Linked DNA regions of Homo sapiens. The protein of the gene in region 2 interacts with the protein of the main gene of each other region in a pairwise test. Each region holds a gene or a part of one and is shown on either strand. Other genes may lie near its edges.

Region 1 (8,564 bases), on a different chromosome or scaffold from region 2:
TATTGAATGTAACTCCTCCCCCTAGAATCATTCCTGGTGTTTTGATATTCCATAATTATATACCTCAAAAAATATTTTTTTATTGTTTTTACTTTTATTCATTGTACTTGGCATTTGTGCTTTATAATCCAAAGACTCATGTCTTTTCAGTTTTGGGAAGTACTCTTGTGTCATTTCTTTGATAATTTCTTTGCTGTACTTTTTCCTGCTCTCTATGGAACTCACTGGTTGTATCTTGGACCACTTAAATTAATCTATTAATTTTCTTATATTTTCTCTAAGAACAAAAAAATCTTTTTTGTTCTACTTATAAGAGTTCCTCAACTCTCTACATTCATATTTTCATGATGGAGCCTTCCCTCAAATGTCCACTAATCCTTACATTTTGGTTCACTTTGAAGAGCATGGCACTAAAAACTGGTTCATAACTCTTTTTGTTTGGGAAGTCGGGTGTAAACCTGGTTGTTATGTTCTAGAACTGGTCAAGTGAAGGAAGCAGAGATGTTCATTGTTCTATATACGTACTTCTACTTAATCATGTCCTCTCCCTTTAACCTCTTCACTCCTTGGTTCCTGGTGTCTCTTGAGTCTGCAGTCTCTCTTCTTCGTCTTGGTCCTTATCCAGTGGGAATTGGGGGGCAATAGTTGCTGGGGCTTAATGGATAAGAGTAGGAATGCCAGGGACTGACTGTTGACACTTTCTAATACTCCTGTTTCCAGCCCAACCTCAACCCTACTATTGCTACTTTTTAAACCTAGCTTGTCAACATTTCCAGGGTATTTGAGGCTCATTGGCTGCTAGTTGTTGTTCTTTTCCTTGGCACCTGCTTAGGTTTGCCCTGCCTCCTGTTTGCTACATCATTTACTATTCTTCTGTTTTTAGTCTGTGTGTTATGGTTTTAGTTAAAATATGTCTGCTGGACTTTTCAAAGATGGTATGTGTATATATTTCTCTTTGTTCTTCTCTTTATTGTTTTGGGTTGAGCAGAGTGAGGGCTTGAATTGCTGTCATTTTTAAGTACACTGTCTTCTCAGTTTTATTGTAAACATCTCATTAAATCTTCAGGATCTGACTTGATTCTATACAATATTCATTCACTGAATGTTAATGATGAAATTTCCAACTCCAGTTTCACAGGTTAAAAATTTATGTCATTACTCTTGGAATAATGTGGGAAATATCTTGGGAACATGTGAAATTGTGAATTAGGTAAAGTTAATTTTGGGAACACTCTCCCTGTATCTGTCTTTCTGGTATTATATCTTTCCTACCTAAAATCTAAAACTTTAGAACCTCTCTCTTCCCAAGTGATTAGATCGGCAGTTATTCAGTTGTTCGAAAAAGTCTGCTTGAAATGACAGTTCTCAAAATTAAACACATATGTACCTTAAACATTTTATTTCAATTTAAGACATATATGTACATTTATTCAACAGTCTTTTGATATAGAATCAAGGCCTTTTCTTAGAGTAGATCACTTACTAGAGTTCCATTTTAGTAATGCAAACCACACACACCCCAATGCATCAACTACATTTCTTAGTCAGGTTTATTGAGGCATAAATTTACCCTTATTAGGTGTACAGTTGTGCAAATTCATACAGTTGTATGAATGTTGAAAAACTTGTATGCTGTGGTGGTAAGAAACCACCAGAACACATTGACACTATCCAAAAAATCTTTTATTTTGCCCCTTTTTAGTAAATGCTCTACCTCCATCCGTAGCATCTGGTAACCCCTGATCTGATTTCTGTCTCTATATTTGTGCCTTTTTCTTGAGTGGCATAGAAATGGAATCATATAATCTGTAGCCTTCCCAGTTTTCTGCCATTGTCATGTTCTTATCTAACGTACCAGGTTTTTTGGCTCATCTTTAGAAATTTGCCTTTCTAAAAGCGAAGTCTTTCTAAAGCATTCACTAATTTTTGTTTGTTTTTGTTTTTGGTTTTTGAGATGGGGTCTCACTCTGTCACCCAGGCTGAAGTGCAGTCGTGTGATCTCAGCTCACTGCAACCTCTACTTCCCAGGCTCAAGCGATCGTCCCACCTCAGCCTCCCAAGTAACTAGAACCACAGGCATGCGCCACCATGCCCAGCTAATTTTTGCATTTTTGGTAGAGACGGGGTTTTGCCATGTTGCCCAGGCTGGTCTCAAACTCCTGAGCTCAAACCATCCACCTGCCTCGGCCTCCCAAAGTGCTAGGATTACAGGCGTGAGCCACTGCTCCCGGCCAGCATTCGCTAACTTTTAAACCTTCATTATAACTATGTGTTTACAATAGCAAATGTAACTGGAATAAACAGTTTCAGAGATGAACCCAGTTGACTGTGATAAGCACACAACTTAGCTGGCTGGAGTAGACATGTACTAAGTGTAATGTTTCCCTTGTATTTACATAGAAGAAGGGAGAGCATCAGCTAATGTGGTGAACTAGTAAGGGGAGGCAAGTTAGGAGCGTATCACTTGCATGCATTTCCCACTCCACTAGGGCATTTCTACCAGCTACTTGGAATCTAGTCATCATAAAAGTAATAACTGACACTTTGAAATTCGCTTTTCTTATAGTAATTTAAATTTTCATAAGATCTGTTTCAGATTTAAAAGATTTTAAGACCAGGGGTTTTGAAAGTTAGAGGGTTTTTTGTTTTTGACTTTACTGACTTACTTGACCTTCCTGAAATCATACCAGGAAGATAAATGTGTATTTGTAAGATTATCTAGACTGCTCTTTAGTATGGAAGAGTTGAGATGTTTATTTCAATTAGTTGCTTTTAAAAATATTGTTTAGGATTTGAAAATTTTTGTATTTGATAATTAATAGTTTAAATCAGTCAAATTCAAATTTATGGAAGTATAATTAGAATAAGACTGTAGCAAAGTAAAGAGAAACAAAAAAATTACTGAATTTGGGTAACTTTCCTCTGAATAAATACATTTTTTAAAAGTAGACACTTGTTTTTATAACTTTTCCATTATTATAATAGAACTAGAAAAAATGCCAAATAAGTTTTTAGTAAATATGAATTAAATACTAAATATGAAGATTATTGGTGCCCGACGGAATAGTTTTGGTGAAGTAAAAACAGGGATTGCCTGGTCGCAGTTTTTTGATAACAGGAAGTAGAGCTATAGGTTGCTTATTACGAATATTATTTATTGAATTTTGCATGTACAGAGAGATTGGGAGCATGAATGATTTTGGACGTGTTGGTCTATTAGAATTGTATATTTTTATAAACCTTTTTAGTAACTAGTATAAGGAAGTAACAATGGAATCAGCAATAGGGGACTGAAGTGCAGAGTCTTTTTTAAAATTTATAAACAAAGGTTTGATTGACTCACAGTATTGTATTGCATGGCTGGGGAGGCCTCAGAAAACTTACAATCATGGAGTAAGGCAAAAAAGCGGGCACCTTCTTCACAAGGTGGCAGGAGAGAGCACTCGGGAAACGGCCACTTTTAAAACCATCAGACCTTGTGAGAACCTGCTCACTATCATGAGAAAAGCATAGGGGAAACTGACCCAATGATCCAATCACCTCCTACGAGGCCCCTCCCTCAACACATGGGGATTACAGTTCGAGATGAGATTTGGGTGGGGACACAGAGCCAAACCATATCATTCTGCCCCTGCCCACCCCCCAAATTGCAGGTCCTTTTTACATTTCAAAACCAGTCATGCCTTCCCAACAGTCCCCCAAAGTCTTAACTCATTCCAGCATTAACCCAGAAGTCCAAATCCAAAGTCTCGTCTGAGGCAAGGCAAGGCAAGTCCCTTCCACCTATAAGCCTGTATAATCAAAAGCAAGTTACTAATGAGGGTCTTATGAGATGTCAAGATCTTGGAAAAGGTGGACCTTTTAAGTACTGCATATTTATTTTTCAAAAACCAAGGCCTAAAGAGGCCTTAATTTAGATAGTGATAATTCCTTGTGCCTCTGGGTGGGAGTATAAAGGAAAACATATAACAGAAGTTTTTTATTTTCTGGAATATTTATTTCAGGATGGCTCCAGAAGTTGCAGCTGTTGAGAGGAAGGGGGGTTACAATCAACTCTGTGATCTCTGGGCAGTGGGAATCACTGCCATAGAACTTGCAGAGCTTCAGCCTCCTATGTTTGACTTACACCCAATGAGGTCAGTGCATCATCATTGAAGAATCTTACGCTTAAGGTTTTTATCCTCTTAGTATGCTGTCATGAACAAGTAATTTTCTTAGTCTTGTTTTACCTTATTTGGGGAACAAATAGTAATAGAATTTGTGTAATAGATAAAAATGTGAAATATTAAAATGCTGTGTAATGATTTGTTGATTTTTCAGAGCATTATTTCTAATGACAAAAAGCAATTTTCAGCCTCCTAAACTAAAGGATAAAATGAAATGGTAAGTATTTTTATGTTATTTACTTTTATGGTGAGATGAGCAAAAAATGAATTGGAATGTAAAAGTCTAATTTTCTAAATTTCTTAGGTCAAATAGTTTTCATCACTTTGTGAAAATGGCACTTACCAAAAATCCGAAAAAAAGACCTACTGCTGAAAAATTATTACAGGTATTATTTTTGCCCTGAAATATATATATATATTTCAAAAGATAAAATGTTATTCAATCAGATTTATAGTAAGTGTTCTGCATTGTATTTAATTTTTATAGCATCCTTTTGTAACACAACATTTGACACGGTCTTTGGCAATCGAGCTGTTGGATAAAGTAAATAATCCAGATCATTCCACTTACCATGATTTCGATGATGATGATCCTGAGGTAGGAATTGCTTTTACCAGCGGGCATATATAACATGTATATGTGTATGTATATATGTGTGTCTGTATGTACGTCTCAAAATCCATTTTTTTAATTTTGGGGCCTAGTTTAAATAAAAAAGCTCTTGAGGGAACAATTAATTCTTTGTCTTTGCCTTTCATGGAAAGTCAAATGCTAGGTTTTTCTTACTGACTACTTATAGGTGACTATAGTGTGAAAATGGCAAAGGCATATCATTTAATCCACTTGTTGAAATCACTGTAGTTATTTCAAAATAGCCATTTTTGGTGAAGTTGCCAAATAATCATTCACTGTAAAAGGGAAAGCAAATGGGAAGTGCCTAAACAAGACATTTGAATATTCAAAATTTCCCCTCAGTTTGCTTCTCAAAAAGAATCCTCAGTTTGGCCTGGTGGCTCATGTCTGTAATCCCATCACTTTGGGAGGCTGAAGCAAGAGGATTACTTGAGGCCAGGAGTTTGAAACCTGCCTGGTCAACATAGCAAGACCCCGTTTCTATCTTTAAAAAAAAATTCTTATATAATACTTCATAAATTATTAGAGGTTAGTAGGAAGTATAGGCTTGACTTTGCCAGTGACTAAAACTCAGCTATTCACTATGGAAATGTTTTAAAATGAGCCAGTATAGTTGTTAATAAAATAATTCTAATATGACAGAAGCATTGATATTAATGGAAGCTTCACTTCTGTTTGCATATGTAACATTCCTAGCACTGCTAATAGTTGTGGCAACCAAGATAAATTCAGTATATGTGACATGGCAGAATTCTGTTATTGGGTCTGTAACAGAAGTGGATAGGCTTTAACTCTACTGGCTTTATGGGAGGCCCTTAAAAATATTGTAAATTTCATTAATGACTGAAGGTGAAGTGTTTAGAAAGACGGCCACAGATTGTCTTAAGTCAGAGAGAACCTTTCTATCAATTCAGCATTGTCCCAGCTTGCCATCTTATGATAGATAAGCTATTTGTCCTTTTGTTTAAGGGTCTGGAAAAGAGTTTGGAGCTTAAAAATGTAAGGAATGTAAAGTATAATTAATCTTATAATTATACTCTGAAGAAGTTTTTTTTGTTTTGTTTTTGTTTTTTTTTGAGATGAGTCTTACTCTATTACCCAGGCTGGAGTGCAATGGCATGCTCTCAGCTCACTGCAGCCTCTGCCTCCTGGGTTCAAACGATTCTCCTGCCTCAGCCTCCTGAGTAGCTGGGATTACAGGAGCCCACCACCATGCCCAGCTAATTTTTGTATTTTTAGTAGAGATGGGGTTTTACCACATTGGCCAGGTTGGTCTCGAACTCCTGACCTTGTGATCTGCCTGCCTCGGCCTCCCAAATGCTGGGATTACAGGCATGAGCCACCGCACCTGGCCTGAAGAAGTTTTTTGGTGTTGATTTGCTTAATTTTATTTTTAAGAAAGTTAAGTTTTACAAACTCTTCTAGTCTTATTTAGTATACAGGCAGTCCTTGATGTGCATGGTAGTATGGGACTGTAAAAATGACTGCATAAGCTAAAATTCTGCAAAGTAATCTTAATAATCAGGAAAAATTATAATTGTTTCATGACTTTTAAAATTTTTTGTTAAAGCATAAACTCTGTTACTGTCAGTTGTAATTGTAGAAATGTGAAAAAATAGTAAAACTATTATTTACAGTGTATTATAAATATTAGAATCATCGAGAGTTAATGTGTTTCATTTCTTTGTTAATGAACTTTTCATGCACTTTTTTTACTTATCTAGTAGTCTGCTTATTGAGTAGTTTGCCTTTTCATCATGTGTCTGTGACACAGAGCAAGTATCTTTTCTATGCCTTGGCAAATTGTCATATTGCTTTCTAATTTTCTTTCTAATCATGATCATGATGTGCATCTGTTATTTACGTAGTAATTTGTGAACTGAAAGGCTACCAATAAAGTTTATACTTTATGCAATTTCAATTAATATACAGTGGTAACTGTTATTTGAACCATGATGTAGGGAACTAGTGTTATTTAACTAAATTATGGTAACTGAAATTGGTGCATAACAAAGCTGTAAAACAAGGACTGCCTATATCCTTTTCAGTGCACTAAATGCTACATGATTGTTTCTTACCTCACCCTATGTACTTGTCATGTCTTTTTAAAAATGTACTCAAAGAACAGAAATAATAAACCAAATAGAGAAGCAATCTGTGGAATGAAGATTCTTCTAAAACTTTCTCATATAGCAGGGAAAGAAACTCATCTTTCTTATCCAGACATTGTTTTGGTATTATAATTATAAATTGTTACAAATCTCTATGGTAAGTAGGTAAAATAAAGGAATTTAATTATTCCAGGGGTAGGATGAGGGGAAGCTGTTACATTCCCTCTCACAGTAGCTTAGAATAATGTTTTTCTTAAGAGAAATTCATAACTTTTTTATTTGCAAATGATTTGTAATTGTAATTGCTAAGTGCAGTGTTGTCACTCAAAATACGAATGTATCTAAGAATTTCAGCACTTACTGTGATACTAGAACTATTGTATGCATACTCTTAAAAATAAGGGTGGGCTCAGTGGCTTATGCCTGTAATCCCAGCACTCTGGAAGACCGAGGCAGGTGGATCACCTGAGGTCAGGAGTTTGGGACCAGCTTGGCTAACATGGTGAAACCCCGTCTCTACTAAAAATACAAAAATTAGCCGGGCATGGTGGCTCATGCGTGTAATCCCAGCTATTCAGGGGGCTGTGGCAAGAGAATTGCTTGAACCTGGGAGGCAGAGGTTATAGTGAGCCAAGATCATGCGACTGCACTCCAGCCTGGGCAACAGAGCGAGACTCCATCTCAAAAAAAAAAAACAAAAAATAGAAAAAGAAAAATATATATATATGTGTATTTATCTATATATACATATATACACACACACACACACACACACACATATACCACATCTAAGTCTAGTTTAAGTTTTTTATAGGTTATGCACTGTGGAAGAAAGTTTGACTTTTTAATGTTGAGTTCCCCTGTAGTTTCTATTTTAGAAGTAATTACACACTGGTGTAATTCTAATTCTGATTTTTATTCAGTTTTCGTCTCCTATATGTAAGCCCACTTACTATGTACAGCATTATAAGATTTAACAATTTTATTAATCTGTTATGCTAATAAATTAATAATTTATTGTGCTGTTTAAGCCGGGAAGGTAAAACTGTTCTCAGAAATAATCATGAGTTTCATCCATGTTCATTAATAACAGTCTGTATGAGTAACCTGCATGTTACCTGTTTTTGTTTGGTTTTGCTACTGTATATTAGATCAAAAGTCTAGGGTTTTTCCTAGCTCTATGGCTAGCTAGCTGAATGCCCTGCCACTTAATTTTAAGTCTCAGTATCCTCATCTATGAAATTGAAGGGGTGGGTTGCCCCTCCACACCTGTGGGTGTTTCTCGTTAGGTGGAAGGAGAGACTTGGAAAAGAAAGACACAGAGACAAAGTATAGAGAAAGAAATAAGGGGACCCAGGGGACCAGCGTTCAACATATGGAGGATCCCGCCAGCCTCTGAGTTCCCTTAGTATTTATTGATCATTTGTGGGTGTTTCCCCGAGAGGGGGATGTGTCAGGGTCACAAGACAATAGTGGGGAGAGGGTCAGCAGACAAACACGTGAACAGTGGTCTTTGCATCATAGACAAGGTAAAAGAATCAAGTGCTGTGCTTTTAGATATGCATACACATAAACATCTCAATGCTTTACAAACCAGTATTGTTGCCCGCATGTCCCACCTCCAGCCCTAAGGCGGTTTTTCCCTATCTCAGT
Region 2 (8,564 bases):
TCAGTTTTAGCACTGAAAAGTCCCCTGTCCCAAGAACTATCTCCATCCTAGGAAAACCAGGATAGTTGAGTATTTCTCGCTTTACATATGAGTATAATGAACCCATAAGGAAACATCTTTTCTCTTTTACGGAGAGGAAATTGAGGCTCAGAAGGAATAAGATACTCTTTGCAAATTGCATGCTTATAAAGAGCCAGGATCTGAACCCAGATCTGCTGAGTTTCTCTACACCATAAGCCCTCTGAAGGCCATCAGACCCCTGCTGTCATTCAAGGGCTCAGCCCAAAAGCGCCTGCTATTTTTGCAGCTCTGTGCTAGATGCTGTGCTTGTTCCGATGAAGTGCTGAGATCTTATGGAGGCAGGCACACTCACAACCCCTCATGCCAGACAGCATGCAATCACGGGATGCTCTGTGGGGCTGAGGGAAGAAAGTGTGCCATGTGGCTCAAGGAGCCAGCAGTGACTTCCTAGAGGAGGTGAGATTTATGCTGGTCATTCAATGATAGGGAGGACACAGAATAGAGTCATTCTTAAAGAAAGCCCATGGGGATTCCCCTCAGGAGTGTCCTGAGCAGGTGGATACCAGTGCCCACGGAGGCTGCAGGGACAGTGAGAACAGTGGCTTGGCTGCAGAGATAGGAACAAGGCAGAGGTAAGGCTGGACAGTGAGGATAACATCACATTCCAGGTTCCCTGTCTCTGGAAGGATTGACACTTGTGCTCATGAGAATCTGGGAGTTGTGTTTTCTGGAACCAGAGGGAATATACTTGCAAAAGTATTGAAAAGTGATTTTGTTGTGTGGGGTTTATGAGCCCATGTGTGTTTATTTATGCAGCTCTTTGCTGGGACTCCCAGTTGGCCAACTGGGATGAATGATTTTGACTGTGGCCTTTTTCGCCTTCTCTCAGTGTGTGATAGGATTGATGATGGCAAACTTTTATTAAAGAGCACTTAACATAAGCCAGACACAAGTAGTAGCTAATTTAATCCTTCTAACAACACTTTGAGAAAGATGCTGTTTCATCATTACAGATCTGGCCTAACCAAACAAGTTCAAGCTGGCCCTTTTGGTCTACTAGTTGGTGGCAACATCATTTTTTCTCTTTGAACCTCATTTCTTATCTGAGTGGAAGAGAAAATAGCCCCTCCCTTGTCTAATTTCCCAAGGTTGCTCTGAAGATAAAAATGGTGAGGGTTGTAGATGAACCTTGTAAGCCACCGTATAAATATGGTCTTATTGATCTTAAGAAGAGTGGCCATTGCAAAAGAGAGCCAAAAAGAAGACTGAGCTTTGGTCAGACATATTTGGGGTTGAATCCATCTCTGCAACTCCTGGCAAGCTAAGGAAGCTTCCTCAGCATCATGCTTTTGTAAAATGAGGATGTTAAATTTTTGGGGGGTCACTAGGGGAACTGAATGAAATCTTGTGTATGAATCTTTTGGACACATTGTAGATATTGTCAATATTATTACATCTTTGGGCCCTTTTAGGCACCTCAGAATCTATTTCATGCTGAGTATATGAGGAGAGTCTCATACTGGAATGCCCTTAGATGACTGTTTGTATTAAGAAATTGTAAAACACTTAGCAACTTCTATTATTCTCCACAGTATATTTATTATGAAGATGTATAACTGCCAGAGAAAGAAACAGATACCTATTTGATTTATTTGATTGAGAAATGCAGTTTTTATTTTAAGAATTGTATTTTGATGATAGCTTAATATCTTTTTTTTTCTTCCCCTTCCCAGGATGAAGATGATGGTATGTTCGGAAACACATTCTTACAGCCTATAACTCATTCTTTCATTTTCCTGCTCAGGCATTCAAGTGGAATTGTTTAGTACAGGAACCCCATAGAATCAATTATAAGTCTTAAATTAGTATTAAGTAGACTTATGTCAATTGGCATACTGCATAACTATCGTAAAATGGATTACTTGGTTAGATTACCGAAGAAGACTAAATTCATGTGTAACAGTGCAGATTATTTAATTGTATCACAAAATGTAAAATTGCATGCATGGTTTGATGGAAACATTTCTCACATTTATGTCTTCTAACACACGTGGGTAAAGAATCAGTAACTGCCAATGAATGAGATAGCATAAAATTTTGACTTTCATAAAACAAAACTTGTAAATCATTTCTGAAATTTATAAGGTTTCCAGCTGACAATTTTCTGCCAAGTTAACATTTCAAAAATGAAAAACAAAATCAATGTGTATTTTAGAGTATCATCTAGATCTGCGCCCCTTTGTAAATGGATTCTATGGTGGTTAAGTCATCTAGAAACACCCTGGGAGCAAGGTTCCATCCTACTACTTCCTAATTACATCTGATCTGCTTTATTTTTGTGTCCTCTTTATACTAGCTGTTTCTAACTGGGGGGCGGTTATGGAATGTTTCTTAGTGACAGCTGGGGCCTGCCAATCTCATTCATTGTTTTCTACTTCTGCACAGTGCATCAGAGACCTTTGCCCCAGCCAGCACTACTTCCTATGAGCTCCAACACTTTCCCTTCAAGATCTACTAAGCCAAGTCCCATGAACCCTCTCCCATCCTCTCACATGCCTGGAGCATTCTCAGAAAGGTTTGTAGCTCTGTCATGAAATTCTAGCTTAATATAATGTTTAGGTCCATCCAGTACTGAAGTAATGCCAGGCAGATTGAGAAAGAAGGAAATGACGGGTAGATAGTAGGGTCTGAACATTTTGGGTCTTAAGACATAAAACCAAACTGAGCATTAAGAACGATATGTTAATCCACCAGTGTCCTCTGAGTCTCTGCTTGAGGTGAGAGGGGTGAGGAATTGACTTCCTCCTTGATCCCTCCAGATAGAATGGGCCTTTTGGTAGAAAACAAAGAATATTTTCACTTTATGAGTTCAAACAAACAACAATAATTAAGAAACCCAGTTAGTCTAAGTACTTGAAGTTCATCTGCATCTTAGTTGGGGAGACTGAGAAAATGCGCCTCGTGCTTGGCTGATGCTAGGAATTCATTGCAGTCTCTGTCCCCCTGTTTTCTCAGTAGCAGCTGTGTTTCTCAGGGCTGGTATGAGGCCGCCCAGGGGCAGATGCATGAACAGGAGAAAGGCCCAGTCATTGTCCCCAAACAAGCCCACGGGCAGCCTGTGGTGTCCCCCAAGTCCTCCAGCCCTGTAGGCTTACCTTCTCCCTTAATATTCAAGGAGAGAAGCCAAGATCCTTCCCTAATATTGTAGAAAACTCAACCACCCACAAGACTCATCTACCCCCACCAACTCCTAGCAGGATTCTCACAATGTTTCCTCTGCCCTGGGACCCTCTGGCCCTGAGTTTCTGCTGCTCTTCTCCCTCTTCCCGCTGGCATCTGCTGCCCTTGTCTGCTGACCCTCCTGCTGCTTTCCTCCATGCTAGCCCCAACCCCATCCTTCATTTGCACAAAATCCCACTCACACAAGGTTGCTGTGCAGAGCAGACTTTTCCCAAAGGTTTAGACTGATGGGTGCAGGAGTTGCTGCTCAGTGTGGAGGGAACAGACTGCATTTCAGGGCCCTCTGGGCCCGCCTCCCCACCCCAGCCCTGCAAATGCTATCACCGTCTGCTGCAGAGCCCACCTAACATGCACTTCCCTTCTCACCTGGCTTACTCTCTCCTTGCAGACCCTAAGCCCTGGGGATTCACTGCTCACCAAAGACAAGCCCATTAATATAATTTCCTAGCAAAAGGGAAGTCTTCTGAGAAGAGGACTTCTGTATTCTCCCAACTCAAAGAGCTCAAGTTGCAGCCAATTTTTAAAGTAACTGTTAAGTGCCCTTTACACAGTTGAATGTTGTTGCTGTTCTGCTTTATAAAGCTTGTTAGACTTTGGCATGGTCCACAGCGGAATGTAGTTCCATTCCCTGTGTGCTGTGTTCTGTCCCTGTGCCCAGCCCCCATGGTTTTGGGGGCAGCAGGGAAAGTGATACCAAATCAAGAAGCATTTGCAGCCTGGCTTCCCTAACCCAGCTCCCCTGTCTGGCCCCATCACCCCAATCCAAATAAATTTTGTTCTTTTTCTGTCTCCTCAGTAACAGCAGTTTTCCACAGAGTGCCTCCCTGCCACCATACTTCTCTCAAGGTTTGTACTCTGGGCTTTTGTGACGTGCTTCAGCCATCAAGCCTTTATGACTGGATCCCTAACCTGTCCCAAAAGCTTTCGACAAAGGTTTTATTGTTTCCTAAAAGCATCTGATTTCCTCATTCAACATTTAATTCCGTGTCTGCAGTGTGCCAAGGGCTGTCGGAATGATAGGATAGTACCTAAAACACAACACATACACACACACGTATACATATACATGCCCATACACACATGCACATATACATGCACACACACACATGCATACACATGTACACATATATACATGTGCACACAGGTATACACATATATACACATACACAATACATGCACACACATGCACATGCATACACACATACATACATGGACACACCTACACACACTTCACCAGGAAGCCAGCCCTCATCCCCAATCTTCCTGTGCAGAACTATTCCTCCAGCTCCGGTTTCCCTACGGAATCCTCAGAATCCTGTTTGCCTTTCTCTGCAGTTTTAGATTTCCATGATCAATCTGTCCATGGTTGTGAGTTGGGGAGCATGTTCAAAATACAAACTAAGAGAACTTAACGTCACAGATTCTGATTCAGTAAGTCCGGAGTGAAGTCAGGGACCTGTGTTTTTAATAATACCACCTCTGGACGTCCATGATTAGTATTCGCTTAGAGTGTTCTGCAACTTGAAAGTGCATATAGATCACCTGGGAATTGTGTTAACATGCAGATTCTAATTCAGGAGGTCTGGGGTGAGGCCTGAGTTTCTGAATTTCTAACATATTCCATGCGATGCTGTGACTGCTGGTTCATGAACCACTTTGAAAGGCACTGGGGCAGGACTAATTTGTGCTTTTTATCCTTAAAGACTTGCAAGTGACAGGCACTTGGTAGGCACTTTAAAAATGCTTGTCGAATGAGCATCAAATGACTAGGGAAAGTTACCCAACTCTAGTAAGTAGCATTCCAGGAAACTGGCTTAGCATTGCCAGATTTTCCAATTTTTTTCTCAAGAAAAGTGAAATTATTTAATTTTTAAATGTTGACTTAAATTTTTAAAAAATGCTGTGAAGAATGACAACAGAAAAGCCACTTTTTTTGCAGTCATGTTCCACATGCAGTGTGTGCACGGGCCAGTGTGTGTTCAGTAGAAAACTATGTTAGTAAATGTGAGTTGATAGCCTGAGAATCAACATTTTTTCCAAGAACACATCTAGGGTATTCAGTTGGATGCATCATTCCATAGAGGGGCGAGATCCCACTGCTGACGCCAGTGGCACCCACTAAGTTTTCAATGTTTTCTAAGCATTTGAGGTTATGGTGGTGTCCACGTTCACCACATGGTTTTCACAGTTTCTCGCCCAACCCCTAATTTTCCACAATCCCCAAAATTCTCTGTGTTTTGCAAACACACATTTGTGTTACCTCCTTGCCTCTGTAGCCATCTGAGTCCCAGACACATCACAGCATTATTTTCCAAAGCAAGTTCCACAGATCTCCAGTTTTATGAGTCTGTGATGGGGCTTATTAATGCAAATAGTTAATTATTTTTGGAACATTAGCTTGATCCAAATTGATCTCTTTTCCCCTAAGACTGCCAGGACACCTGGTCCTCGGTCTTCTCTACTGGTTCTACTGGTTGTTCCAACATCAGAAGGATAAAGTTTGTGCTGTGCATTGCCCAAAAACCTGTCATGACTCCCTTGAGAGTCTAGATATTAAGGGTGGTAGGTGACTGCAATAAAAAAGTGTATGTGCTTCTCTGTTGTAACTTAGAACTCTATGATGCTGGCCTGCAGGTGCAGAGGCAGAAAGAGAATCATTTCTTAACTGTAGAATGGCCATGCAATGCGGGCCTTGGTTCTGTTACTCTCCTGTATTGTTAGGTTTCATTCATTCAACAAGCATTATAAAAGTGCAAGTGTTGGACTGCAAAAAAAATGGGGATGGGGAAGATCTGTCTAGGCACTGGGAACTTGGAGAAGGAAGGCACTGGCAGCTCAGGGCCAGCTTGTTTAGAAACAGGGAAGGAGCATCTTAAACAATCCTGTTGATGTGGCTCAGGAGACTTGTTTAAAAACAGGGAAGGACCATCATAAATAATCTTGATGATGCGGCTCAGGAGGCTTTAGCCCTTACAGGTGACTCTCCTCTCCTCAGTGGTGTAACAAGGTAGACGTAGTGACAATCCGTGGTGTAGAACCACCGGAAGTACTTGCTAACATGCAGATTTCTGAGCCCCAGGTGCTCGCAAGTCGCCCAGGGATTCTGACTCATGCACAGTAGCATTTGGTAACCACAGGTTTAAGTTTTGGCTTTGCCACTGATAGCGCATGATTTGCTTAGCCTCTGAGCCTGTATTTCCCCATATGCAAAATGAAGACAATACCTACCTTGTAATGTTGCTGTGAGGATTAAAAAAAATGTACACACGATACCTTACTCAAGATCTGGACAGAGTTGTGCTGAATAAATATTTGTTGAAGGTATGAATGAATGATGGTTAAATAATTAAGAGAACATTTGACTCACAGAATTTTTCTGTTTTTAACCACAGCCTGGCACATAGAAAATACCCTGGGCAACTGCAATAAACACAACTAAACCTTTCCTGAGATTAGGAAACATTCTCCTAAAGTTTCAAGGAACTGTAAATGAGAAAAAAGAGTTTTAGAGAAGATGAGGCACAAGCACTGGGTAATTAATAGTTGCCCAGTAAAAACTTCCTGATCTGTAGTGCCTTCTATGTGAGTTGAACAGTCTACCTGTTTAGTTAGAACAGCGGGTAGCCAACTTTGATTCTAAAAGCTAGCAATATTCTCAAGGTAATTTTGTCTTCTCTTGGGTCACTTACATTTCTTTTTGTGGAAACATTAAGAACATAATTATCTTCATCATTGCATTGTCCCTACATCAGCTGTTGGGAATCCATTCTGCCTATGATGATATTATAAGAATCTATGAAAAATTTGTCTCTTGAGCATTCATTTTGACGTTCACATTCATTAAAACAATTGCGAATTTTTTTATAAAGGGATCTAGTCACTTTATATTATGTAACATGCACATTTAGAAAAATCACTCAAAGTTGAGGTTCTCTTCTCAAAGTTTTACTGGCATGATTACAGAATAATGCCTGAGCAGCCCCCATGGTTTCAAACAGATGAAAATTATTTTTGAAGCCCTTGTTTCTTAAAATGCGAACTATAGGACCAATCGCAAGGGTATTTTTTTGGGGGAGTGGGGGGAATGTGTTTTGTGTTTTGATAGCAGCAAACAATAGCTTACAGTAAATTAACTGTCAGAATTCTATACTTTTGAAGGCCCTAGCAACAGACCACCTATCAGAGCCGAAGGCAGAAACTTCCCCTTGCCACTTCCAAACAAACCTCGGCCCCCATCCCCCGCGGAGGAAGAGGTAAGAGAGCATGTTTTTATTTTTGTTTGTTTGCCTTTTCCCTGGTAAAAGAATCACCAGAAACTCCCATTGAATGTTCTTCTGTACTTTTATCTTCCCTTTGTTTTATTTTATTTATTTGAAAAAAAAGTTAAAGGAGAAGATCCAGATGAACAATATGTTCTTTTCCCTTGGCGTTCTTTCAGACGCTTTCAATGGCAAACATGTGTTTTGCATTAAACAGCAAGAAAAATAATCCTGTTTTTTATGTTTATGACCTTGATTCGTCACTTAACTGCTCAATAACCCATTTTTTTAATCAAGCAGGTTATTATGCTAAACTGAAGAAATTATTGTATCTGTATCTTTCCTGAAGAGGTTCCATACTGTAAGGAACTCTTATTCACAGGCATTTTTGCAACCAGTGTCATGATAAAAAGCAGTTCGCACAAAATATCTTCTATTTAGCCCCAGCTAAATGACTCTGAATGCAAATTAAGAAAACAAATGTTTCAGACCTCCTGGAATTGAGGTGTTGATTTATGGAAATGATTACTCAGAGGCTTTTCTTTTCACTTACATCTGTAACTGTAAAATTTATTCAGTTTCTAAAAATTTACATTTTCAGAATTCATTAAATGAAGAGTGGTACGTTTCTTATATTACCCGACCAGAGGCAGAAGCTGCTCTTAGAAAGATAAACCAGGTATTGTGCTATAGTTTATTTTAACATAGTTGTAAATATTAATGGCAGAGAAGGGAACTGACCTGTCCTGAGTACCAATTACAGGCTAGGAATTCTGCTAGGTGCTGTTGCTTTCTGTAATACCTAGGAGACCCATTAGTGCCAGCTTCACAACTACCAGCACCCATAGCAGGGATTCCTAGGCTCGGGAATCATTAGGCTGGCAGAAGAATCTCAAGGCAGTCATTTGGTTGGCAGCATCTTAGGAGATTTTATTAATGAAAGAGTCTGTCTTGTCATAGGAATCACATGGTGTCAGAAGGAGACTCTCTTTCAAAGTTCCAACATCGTACCAGTTCTATCTTCCTCTTAACACAGACGTGCCA

What was found. Proteins that work in one complex are often made in the same cells at the same time.
Region 1: the proteins of LCP2 (region 2) and MAP4K3 interact in binary tests that used the Homo sapiens proteins (3 or more experiments, as listed by UniProt).

The regions. Positions count from the first base shown.
Region 1 is NC_000002.12:39,321,718-39,330,281, reverse strand, and holds part of MAP4K3 (mitogen-activated protein kinase kinase kinase kinase 3), read left to right. Parts: intron 1-4,004; coding exon 4,005-4,136; intron 4,137-4,320; coding exon 4,321-4,383; intron 4,384-4,470; coding exon 4,471-4,552; intron 4,553-4,653; coding exon 4,654-4,764; intron 4,765-8,564. UniProt on the Homo sapiens protein: Serine/threonine kinase that plays a role in the response to environmental stress. Appears to act upstream of the JUN N-terminal pathway.
Region 2 is NC_000005.10:170,252,069-170,260,632, reverse strand, and holds part of LCP2 (lymphocyte cytosolic protein 2), read left to right. Parts: intron 1-1,754; coding exon 1,755-1,767; intron 1,768-2,466; coding exon 2,467-2,596; intron 2,597-4,057; coding exon 4,058-4,107; intron 4,108-7,419; coding exon 7,420-7,514; intron 7,515-8,062; exon of another isoform or gene 8,063-8,121; coding exon 8,122-8,199; exon of another isoform or gene 8,200-8,564. UniProt on the Homo sapiens protein: Adapter protein primarily involved in signaling pathways within T-cells, as well as other immune cells such as platelets, mast cells, and natural killer (NK) cells.